Regions from separate parts of the Homo sapiens genome. Here region 1 is linked to region 2. Evidence: fine-mapped expression QTL. A gene starts in region 2. The other region holds a variant in brackets. All regions are shown on one strand. Distances are between the middles of the regions.

Region 1 (5,391 bases), 24 kb before region 2:
CTCACACATATTCCTCTTCAATTCTATTTAATTTAACTTAACACGTTTCAAAAGTTAAATACAGAATTCATACTAACTCCTTTTCTATTGCACAGGAATTCCTTTGATCAGTGGAGATCAGTTCAGCATGCCCTGCCACCTAATATCCAGGAAAGAACTGTCCTGTTGTGTCATATTGACACCATCTCTTTCCATCACATCTCATTCCTCCCTCCCCTACTGGTTTACAGAATCACGACATTATTGTAGGGAAACAGAGATGCCTCTTTTGTTAGCATTTAGAGATTTTATAGGTTAACTTGCAGCTGCTTGGAGATAGTGATTTTAGTCTTGTACAAGCTGCATTCATGTATATTAATAGAGAATACTTATGCTTTGTTCATGATAGGAAAGAAAGCATGACTTAAAGGAAGTAATACAAAATTTGAAGTCAAGATAACAGCATTCTAGTCTCGCTTTTACAGCATAACAGTCATAAGACCTTGTCTGGGCACTGTGGTTCACACCTGTAATTCCAGCACTTTGGGAGGCCGAGGTGGGAGCATCACTTGAAGCTAGGAGTTCAAGGCCACACTGGGCAATATAGCAAGACTCTGTCTCTAAAAGAAATTGAAAAAAACTTAGCCTGGCATAATAGTGTGCTCCATAGTCCTAGCTACTCAGGAGGTGGAGATGGGAGGATCTCTTGAGTGCAGGAGTTTGAAGTTACAATGAGCTATGATCATGCCACTGCACTGCACTCGAGACTGGGTGACAGAGTGAATCTCTGTCTCTTAAAAAAAAAAAAAAAGAGTTATGGAGTCACTTCCAAGATGGCTGAATAGGAACAGCTCTGGTTTGCAGCTCCCAGTGAGATCGACGCAGAAGATGGGTGATTTCTGCATTTCCAATTAAGGTACCTGGTTCATCTCATTGGGACTGGTTGGACAGTGGGTGCAGCCCATGGAGGGCAAGCTGAAGCAGGGCAGGGTGTTGCCTCACCCGGGAAGCACAAGGGGTGGGGCGATTTCCCTTTCCTAGCTAAGGGAAGCCATGACAGACTGTATGTGGAGAAACAGTGCACTCCTGACAAAATACTGCACTATTCCCATAGTCTTAGCAACCGTCAGACCAGGAGATACCCTCCCATGCCTGGTTCGGCAGGTCCCACACCCACGGAGCCTTGCTCACTGCTAGTGCAGCAGTCTGAGATAGACCTGCGACGCTGCATCTTGATGTGGAGATGGGCGTCTGCATTGCTGAGGCTTGAGTAGCTCACAGTGTAAACAAAGAGGCCTGGAAGCACGAACTGGGTGGAGCACACCACAGCTCAGCAAGGCCTACTGCCTCTATAGATTCTACCTCTTGGGGTAGGGCATAGTAGAACAAAAGGCAGCAGTCAGCTTCTGCAGATTTAAACGTCCCGTCTGACAGCTCTGAAGAGAGCAGTTGTTCTCTCAGCATGGCATTCGAGCTCCGAGAACAGACAGACTGCCTCCTCAAATGAGTCCCTGACCCCCGTGTAGCCTGACTGGGAAACACCTCCCAGTAGGGGCCGACAGACACCTCAAACAGGCAGGTGCCCCTCTGGGACGAAGCTTCCAGAGGAAGGATCAGGCAGCAATATTTGCTGTTCTGCAGCCTCCACTGGTGATACCTAGGCAAACAGGGTCTGGAGTGGACCTCCAGCAAACCCCAACAGATCTGCAGCTGAGGGGTCTGACTGTTAGAGGGAAAACTAACAAACAGAAAAAAATAGCAACAAGATCAACAAAAAGGACATCCACCTCAAAACCCCATCTGTAGGTCACCAACATCAAAGACCAAAGGTAGATAAAACCACAAAGATGGGGAGAAACCAGAGAAGAAAAGCTGAAAATTTTAAAAAACAGAGCACCTCTTCTCCTCCAAAGGATCACAGCTCCTCGCCAGTGAGGGAACAAAACTGGGTGGAGAATGAGTTTGACGAGTTGACAGAAGTAGGCTTCAGAAACCTACTTGGTAATAACAAACTTCTCTGAGATAAAGGAGCATCTTCTAACCCATTGCAAGGAAGCTAAAAACCTTGAAAAAAGATTAGATGAATGGCTAACTAGAATAAACAGTGTGGAGATGATGTTAAATGACCTGATGGAGCTGAAAACCA[T/A]GGAATGAGAACTTTGTGATGCATGCATAAGCTTTAATAGGTAATTCCATCAAGTGGAAGAAAGGATATCAGTGACTGAAGATCAAATTAATGAAATAAAGTGAGAAGACAAGATTAGAGAAAAAAGAGTGAAAAGAAATGAACAAAGCCTCCAAGAAATATAGGACTGTGTGAAAAGACCAAATATACATTTGGTGGGTGTACCTGAAAGTGATAGGAGAATGGAACCAAGTTAGAAAACACTCTTCAGGATATCATCCAGGAGAACTTCCCTAACCTAGCAAGGCAGGCCAACATTCAAATTCAGAAAATAGAGAGACACCACAAAGATACTCTTCGAGAAGAGCAATTCGAAGACATATAATTGTCAGATTCGCCAAGGTTGAAATGAGGGAAAAAATGTTAAGGGCAGCCAGAGAGAAAGGTTGGGTTACCCACAAAGGGAAGCCCATCAGACTAACAGTGGATCTCTTGGCAGAAACCCTACAAACCAGAAAAGAGTGGGGGCCAATATTCAACATTCTTAAAGAAAAGAATTTTCAACCCAGAATTTCATATCCAGTCAAACTAAGCTTCATAAGTGAAGGAGAATTAAAATCCTTTACAGAGAAGCAAATGCTGAGAGATTTTGTCACCACCAGGCCTGCCTTACAAGAGGTACTGAAGGAAGCACTAAACATGGAAAGGAACAACAGGTACTAGCCACTGCAAAAACATGCCAAATGGTAAAGACTTTAGACGCTATGAAGAAACTGCATCAATTAACAGGCAAAATAACCAGCTAACATAATAATGACAGGATTAAATTCAAACATAACAGTATTAACCTTAAATGTAAATGGGCTAAATGCCCCAATTAAAATATACAGACTGGCAAATTGGATAAAGAGTCAAGATCCATCAGTGTGCTGTATTCAAGAGACCCATCTCATGTGCAAAGACGCACATAGGCTCAAAATAAAGGGATGGAGGAAGATCTACCAAGCAAATGGAAAGCAAAAAAAGCGGGTTACAATCTTAGTCTCTGATACAACAGACTTTAAACCAACAAAGATCAAAAGAGACAAAGAAGGCCACTACATAATGCTAAAGGGATCAATTCAACAAGAAGAGCTAACCATCCTAAATATATATGCACACAATATAGGAGCATTCGGATTAATAAAGCAAGTCCTTAGGGACCTACAAAGAGACTTAGACTCCCACACAATAATAATGGTAGACTTTAACACCCCACTGTCAATATTAGACAGATCAACAAGACAGAAGGTTAACAAGGATATCCAGGATTTGAACTCAGCTCTGCACCAGGCAGACCTAATAGACATCTACCGAATTCTACACCCCAAATCAATGGAATATACATTCTTCTCAGCACCACATCGCACTTACTCTAAAATTCACCACATAATTGGTAGTAAAACACTCCTCAGCAAATGTAAAAGAACAGAAATCACAACAAACTGTCTCTCAGACTGATCTCTCAGATCACAGTGCAATCAAATTAGAACTCAGGATTAAGAAACTCACTCAAAACCTCACAACTACATGGAAACTGAACAACCTGCTCCTGAATGACTACTGGGTACATAACAAAATGAAGGCAGAAATAAAGATGTTCTTTGAAACCAATGAGAACAAAGACACAATGTATCAGAATCTCTGGGACACATTTAAAGCAGTATGTAGAGGGAAATTTATAGCACTAAATGCCCACAAGAGAAAGCAGGAAAGAGCTAAAATTGACACCCTAACATCACAATTAACAATAGAGAAGCAAGAGCAAAAAAATTCAAAAGCTAGCAGAAGGCAAGAAATAACCAAGATCAGAGCAGAACTGAAGGAGATGGAGACACAAAAACCCTTCAAAAAAATCAGTGAATCCAGGAGCTGGTTTTTTGAGAAGATCAACAAAATAGACCACTAGCAAGACTAATAAAGAAGAAAAGAGAGAAGAATCAAATAGATGCAATAAAAAATGATAAGGGGGATATCACCACCGATCCCACAGAAATACAAACTACCATCAGAGAATATTATAAACACCTCTGTGCAAATAAACTAGAAAATCTAGAAGAAATGGATAAATTCCTGGACACATACACCCTCCCAAGACTAAATCAGGAAGAAGCTGAATCTCTGAATAGACCAATAACAGGTTCTGAAATAGAGGAAATAATTAATGGCCTATCAACCAAAAAAAGTCCATGACCAGATGGATTCATAGCCAAATTCTACCAGAGGTACAAAGAGGAGCTGGTACCATTCCTTCTGAAAGTATTCCAATCAATAGAAAAGAGAGAATCCTCCCTAACTCATTTCATGAGGCTAGCATCATCCTGATACCAAAGCCTGGTAGAGACACAACAGAAAAGGAGAACTTCAAGCCAATATTTCTGATGAACATCAACGCAAAAATCCTCAGTAAAATACTGTCAAACCGAATCCAGCAGCACATAAAAAAGTTTATCCACCATGAACAAGCTGGCTTCATCCCTGGGATGCAAGGCTGGTTCAACATATTCAAATCAATAAACGTAATCCATCATGTAAACAGAACCAATGACAAAAACCACATGATTGTCTCAATAGATGCAGAAAAGGCCTTCAACAAAATTCAATAGCCCTTCATGCTAAAAACTCTCAATAAACTAGGTATTGATGGAACGCGTCTCAAAATAAAAAGAGCTATTTATGACAAACCCACAGCCAATGTCATACTGAATGGGCAAAAACTGGAAGCATTCCCTTTGAAAACTGGCACAAGAAAAGGATGCCCTCTCTCAGCACTCCTATTCAACATAATGTTGGAAGTTCTGGCCAGGGCAATCAGGCAAGAGAAAGAAATAAAGCGTATTCAATTAGGAAAAGAGGAAGTCAAATTATCTCTGTTTGCAGATGACATGATTGTATATTTAGAAAACCCCATTGTCTCAGCCCAAAGTCTCCTTAAGCTGATAAGCAACTTCAGCAAAGTCTCAGGATACAAAATCAACATGGAAAAATCACAAGCATTCCTATACACAAATAATAGACAAACAGAGAGCCAAAACATGAGTGAACTCCCATTCACAATTGCTACAAAGATAATAAAATACCTAGGAATCTAACTTACAAGGAATGTGAAGGACCTCTTCAAGGAGAACTACAAACCACTGCTCAATGAAATAAAAGAGGACACAAACAAATGGAAGAACATTCCATGCTCATGAATAGGAAGAATCAGTATCGTGAAAATGGCCATACTGCCCAAAGTAATTTATAGA
Region 2 (5,391 bases):
TATAGTTTATTTTTTGTACTATATTTATATGGTTTAGGTGACAACATATTTCTTGTTTCATAAAACTTTCTTGTGGCTTTTCTTGTTTTTCTATACTCAAATGATTTAAGTAGCATTGGGAGTATATGATCTTTGAAGACTTAGGAGAATTCTTTTGTGAAATCTAGGCCTAGTCCTTCTGTAATAGCCTTCTCCATTTAGTCTATGGAAACTGGAAGCCCTTGTGTGATTTTGCAAAGCAGAATGTTCCCATTGCCTACAGTAGCTTCACTCTTCTTTACAGAGCAAGTAGCTATATTCTCTAGGTCTGGCTCATATATCATCTTCTCACTCCACCCCTCACTGCAGGACAGAATCAATCTCTATCTTATTTTAATTGCTTCCATAATATTATATTTGTCTTATAGATCTCATCAAATTTGTATTGTAGCATACCTACTTTTGGAGGTATACATTTCTTTCTCCAGTCTCTAAAAGACAGACACTGATTTGACCACATTTAATTCTTCAGCCCCCAAAATATTGGTCAGGCTTTCATAGGTATTCAATAAATATATTTTGAATAATAATCATGGAAGGAAGGAAAGAAATAATGGAAGACAAGACCACTATAGTAGGAACCATAGTCTTTTTTTTTTTTGAAACAGAGTCTTGCTCTGTCACCCAGGCTGGAGTACAGTGACACAATCTCAGCTCACTGTAACCTCTGCCTCCCGGCTTCAAGGAATTCTCTTGCCTCAGCCTCCCTGAGTAGCTGGGACTACAGGTGTGCACCACCACACCCAGCTAATTTTTGTATTTTTAGTAGAGATGGGGTTTCACCATGTTTACCAGGCTGGTATCGAACTCCTGACCTAAAGTGATCGTCCGGTTTGGCCTCCTAAAGTGCTGGGATTACAGGCATGAGCCACCACGCCTGGCCGGAACCATAGTCTATTAATAAAGTATGTGGACTCTAAGTCAGATCCACTGGAGTTTCTCCCCCAGTTCATCACTGACAAGTGTGTGACATTGGCTGGTTACTTTCTGAGTTTTGTTCTACTCATCTACAGGTAAAGTTTCATAAGGGATTTGTATTCTGAACATGTATACAATTCTTAACATTAAGTACTGTATGTTCCCAATAGATAATACTTTCTCTCTTACTTCTCCCCATAGGAAAGACTGCATTGTAGTTCTTTGGACAATTCCTGGAGAAATCATGAGATATGACTCTCTCACTTGTAGAATCACAGCAAAGGCTCCGTCCTACTGGTAAGTAGTTCCCTCTGAAATTGCCTGAATGAATGAAATTCTCCAGTTCAGGTGAACAACTCTGAGGATATGCAGGAATGTGTTGTGCTTCTGAGATTTTTACAACATTTGTTTTACAGAGGAAAGTTTACATTAGTTTAACATAGTTAGGAAACATGCCGTCTACTGGAGTAGAATACATTGTATTCTGAACAGTTTAGCAGTCCTCATACTTGGGCTTTCTTCCCAGTTCTTGTGCTATTTTCCCAGACAGCAAATTAATTAAATGGCCTTTGGCCATGACTCTTTCCCTTGAGTCAGCTTTTCTGTCATTTAAAGTGTACAGATAGGGGGGATTTAATTAGCCCAATGCCTGGCACATTGCATGCACTCAATAAATGTTTGTTGAGTATTCGAGTTATCTCTAGATGAAGGTCACTTTTGCTATTACTATTAATTTATAAGCATATCAGTAATTCTTGTGCTGATAATATTGACAGTGAACAAGCACTTAAAAGAAAAGTTAACTCATAACTTATAGGGATGTATCATGAGAATTCAGATAGTCAACAACCTATCTATTTTGAACATATTCACTATTCTTCTAATGTTCTAAGGCTCTAATTCTACACTTGAAGCTCAGATGATTCTAAGATAGTGAGGAACTGCAGCAACTATCTGGATATTTTCTCTGCAATGCGTGTGTGTGTGTGTGTGTGTGTGTGTGTGTGTGTGTGTGTGTGTCTGTCTGTCTGGTCTGTGTAAGCCCCGACTAAATATAGAGCCCCCATTCTTTGTGTAAGCTACTTAAGAGAAAGGATTTTATCTTCTAATTTTTATCTCTTCAGCAGAAGTTATTATTGCTAGTTCAATCCCAAATCTATACATAAATTACGAAGTTTAATAACCCCTTAAAAATAAGCTTTTTAAAAATATTTTTCCTGAAATAATGTTTTACTGACCTTGAAAATTTTTCTTAGCTGTTGTCATGCTCAACATTTCTCACTGATGACATATGTGGTGATGATGGTAGTGTAAAGAAAAAGCTTGAGGAAATACACACGGTGCTGATATTTTACTAAAATGAATGTAGCACTCACTCATAATTGTAATTTAATTTTTAAGTAAAAATCTGATTTTCCACTATCATTCCCTTAAGTCTGGCTCATTATAGGCCTAAAGCCTGTATGAATTTACACAGCTGCTTTGAGGCTTTGCATATTTCCTTGTTTTCGATTGTTTGATTTTTTTTTAAAGGGGTATTTTTGCACTGAAGTAAAACACAACTATTAACACTAGCCTCGGGGGAAAAAGAAACTAACAAACCTACAGCTTGAAATGTTTCAACACTTTGCATTTAAAATTTTGCGCACCCTTTAGAAGTTACAAAAATAAAAGCCACTCCCTGCAAAAAAAAAAAAGAAAAAAAGATTGAGAACAAACTGTCATGATTTCAGAAAACGATAGCAGACGTGCAGGTGCTAATACCAGAGAGCTTACCTCCGAATAAAATGGTGCCTTCTAAACAGCGACTATTTACATGTTTTAGAATCCTTTCTTGGGCATGGGTGCCTTTATATTGCCCTATTACCACAAGATGCAAGCCGTGCAGCAGAATGTTTTCTGTATGGTACCCAGCCAAAAGTGAAACAAGTTGCCCACTGACAGAGAGGCCATTTATAGAACATATTCATTTACACCAGTGCTAGGCAGCAACTGAAAGGCAATGCAAAGAAGTAATTTCTCTTTACCTTGCTTGGAGCAACTCTGACCTGGAGAGCCATGTACACATCCTACGTCAAGGAGGTGATGAAAGCCCCACTCCTTATAGCGATGACATCTGGAAGAAGACACAATTGTCACCGTGAGCTTTTCAATTACTCCTGGAGACTAAGTGTGAGACGCAGTAGTGCAGGATGATTGGATTACGCAAAACGAGACAGATGCCATCTGTGAGCCACGCGTAAGCTGCTAAGTGCCAAAATGAACATCCTTATTAAACGATGGAGTTCTCATACCATTTGTAGTTTGGTCAGATTTGAAAGATGAGTTGATTGTTTTTAGATAGTGCGGCAAATAGGCAGGGACTTGGAATCCTCTCTGGCTGTATGAGTAATTACTGTCTCATACTTAAATTAGAAACATGGGTTTTCAGTTAGGTCTTGAGATTGTTTCCAAAGGATGCTGCTGCATTCATGTTGAAGCGTGGCCTGTCCTCTCTGTTTCACTCACAAGGGCCACAGAGTTCTGAGAAAGAAATCATCAGTTCCTTTCACATCATGGCAAAGAAATGTAAAACTTATGACTTTTTGTTAGGAAACAAAAGGGTTCCCATACTCTAAAATAATGGCCACAATATTGTGGGTAGAATGTTTTCAAGAACTGCCAGGAGGCAGTATTGGAGCTCTGTCTCTCTGCGTCCTGAGGCTCCAGAACCAATCCTTCATTTACAATTCATTCTCCCATCTTTTTACTGGCACCAACTCTATTATTATTTTTATTTTAATTTTTAATTGCTGTGATTACATAGTAATATAGTAATATACCCCATAGAGTTTATGGGGTACATGATATATTTTGATATAGGCATCTAATATGTAATGATCACATCAAGGTAAGTGGGATTTCCATCACCTCAAGCATTTATTCTTTGTGTTACAAGCAATCCAATTATACCCTTTTAGTTATTTTTAAATGTACAATTAAATTATTATTGACTATAGTCACTCTGTTGTGCTATCAAATACTAGATCTTATACATTCTCTCTCTTTTTTGTATGCATTAACCATCCCCACACTCCCCCTTTTCTCCCACTACCCTTCCCAGCTTCTGGTAACCATTCTTTTACTTTCCATCTCAATGAGTTCAATTGTTTCCATTTTTAGTTCCCACAAATAAGTAGGAACATATGAAGTTTGTCTTTCTGTGCCTGGTTTATTTCACTTAACATAAGGACCTCCAGTTCCATCCATATTGTTGCAAATGACAGGATTTCATTCTTTCCTTTGGCTGAATTCTATTCTGTACCTGTACCACATTTCTTTATCCACTTGTCTGTTGATGGACATTTAGGTTGTTTCTTAATCTTGGATATTGTGAAACATGCTGCAATATACATGGGCATGCAGATACCTCTCCGATAGACTGATTTCCATTCTTTGGGGTATATGCTCAGCAGTGGGATTGCTGGATCATATGGCAGTCCTATTTTTCTCTTTTGAGGAACCTCCAAACTGTTCTCCATAGTGGCTGTACTAATTTACATTCCCACCAGCAGTGTATGAGGGTGTCCTTTTCTTCACATCCTCACCAGCATTTGTTATTGCCTGTTTTGGGATAAAAGCCATTTTAACTGGGGTGAAGTCATATCTCTTTGTAGTTTTGATTTGCCTTTCTCTGATGATCGATGATGTTGAGCACTTCTCACATACCAGTTTGCCATTTGTATGTCTTGTTCTGAGAAATGTCTATTCAGATATTTTGATCATTTTTAAATCATATTATTAGATTTTTTCCTCTACAGTTGTTTGAGCTCCTTATATATTCTGGTTGTTAGCCCCTTGTCAGATGGGTAGTGTTTGAGTATTTTTTTTCCCATTCTGCGGGTTGGTGTCTTCACTTTGTTGATTGATTGCTTTGCTGTGGCACCAACTTTAGATGGGAACTTAGCTGTGCCCTGTAATCCTTTTTCCATTACAGCATCTTGTTAACCGCTATAAAGAGCACATTCTGCAATATCTACCTGCATACCAAAAGCAAAGGTGAAAAGAGTGCCTTCAGCAAGTCCAGGCCTTGATAGTTTTCATCTGAATATGTTATTGAATTTGACATTCATAATGCATATTAATAACACTGTCAATGCTCTTTTATTAATATACCTTAGATAAATCTTTTAATGTGTGGTTGCCCTGTTCTCTGCTTATATTGTGAGTTCTTGCAGAAAAAGACTTTTCTGCCTGCTGGTAACATTGTAACAGCTCCCAGTGTTGTCTTCAGATTTCAGCACACGGTGGACCCTCAGTAAATGCTGATTGTCCAAATCCCATGCCCTGCCCTATTTGTAACAGTGATGACCCAGAATTTCTCCTTAAAGAGGGCAGGCGGAGGCCAGGTGTGGTGGCTCATGCCTGTAATCCTCGCACTTTGGGAGTCAGAGG

What was found. PIP is the estimated chance that this variant, and not a neighbour inherited with it, causes the effect.
Region 1: its variant is the best candidate, but not a certain one, in a credible set for the expression of TMEM244 in whole blood (INTERVAL, PIP 0.68).

Annotation. Positions count from the first base shown.
Region 1 is chr6:129,834,630-129,840,020 of GRCh38, forward strand. The region is part of intron 3 of TMEM244 (transmembrane protein 244); the gene reads right to left. Among named protein-coding and RNA genes, the nearest start is that of TMEM244, 24 kb to the right of the region's middle. The variant T/A (reference allele first, on the strand shown) is at 2,126.
Region 2 is chr6:129,858,172-129,863,562 of GRCh38, forward strand. It overlaps TMEM244 (transmembrane protein 244), which reads right to left and starts at 3,144. Exons shown (of 5, transcript NM_001010876.2): 1 at 2,985-3,144. The coding sequence starts at 3,017. It overlaps LOC105377999 (a long non-coding RNA gene), which reads left to right. Exons shown (of 8, transcript XR_942986.3): 2 at 1,159-1,254.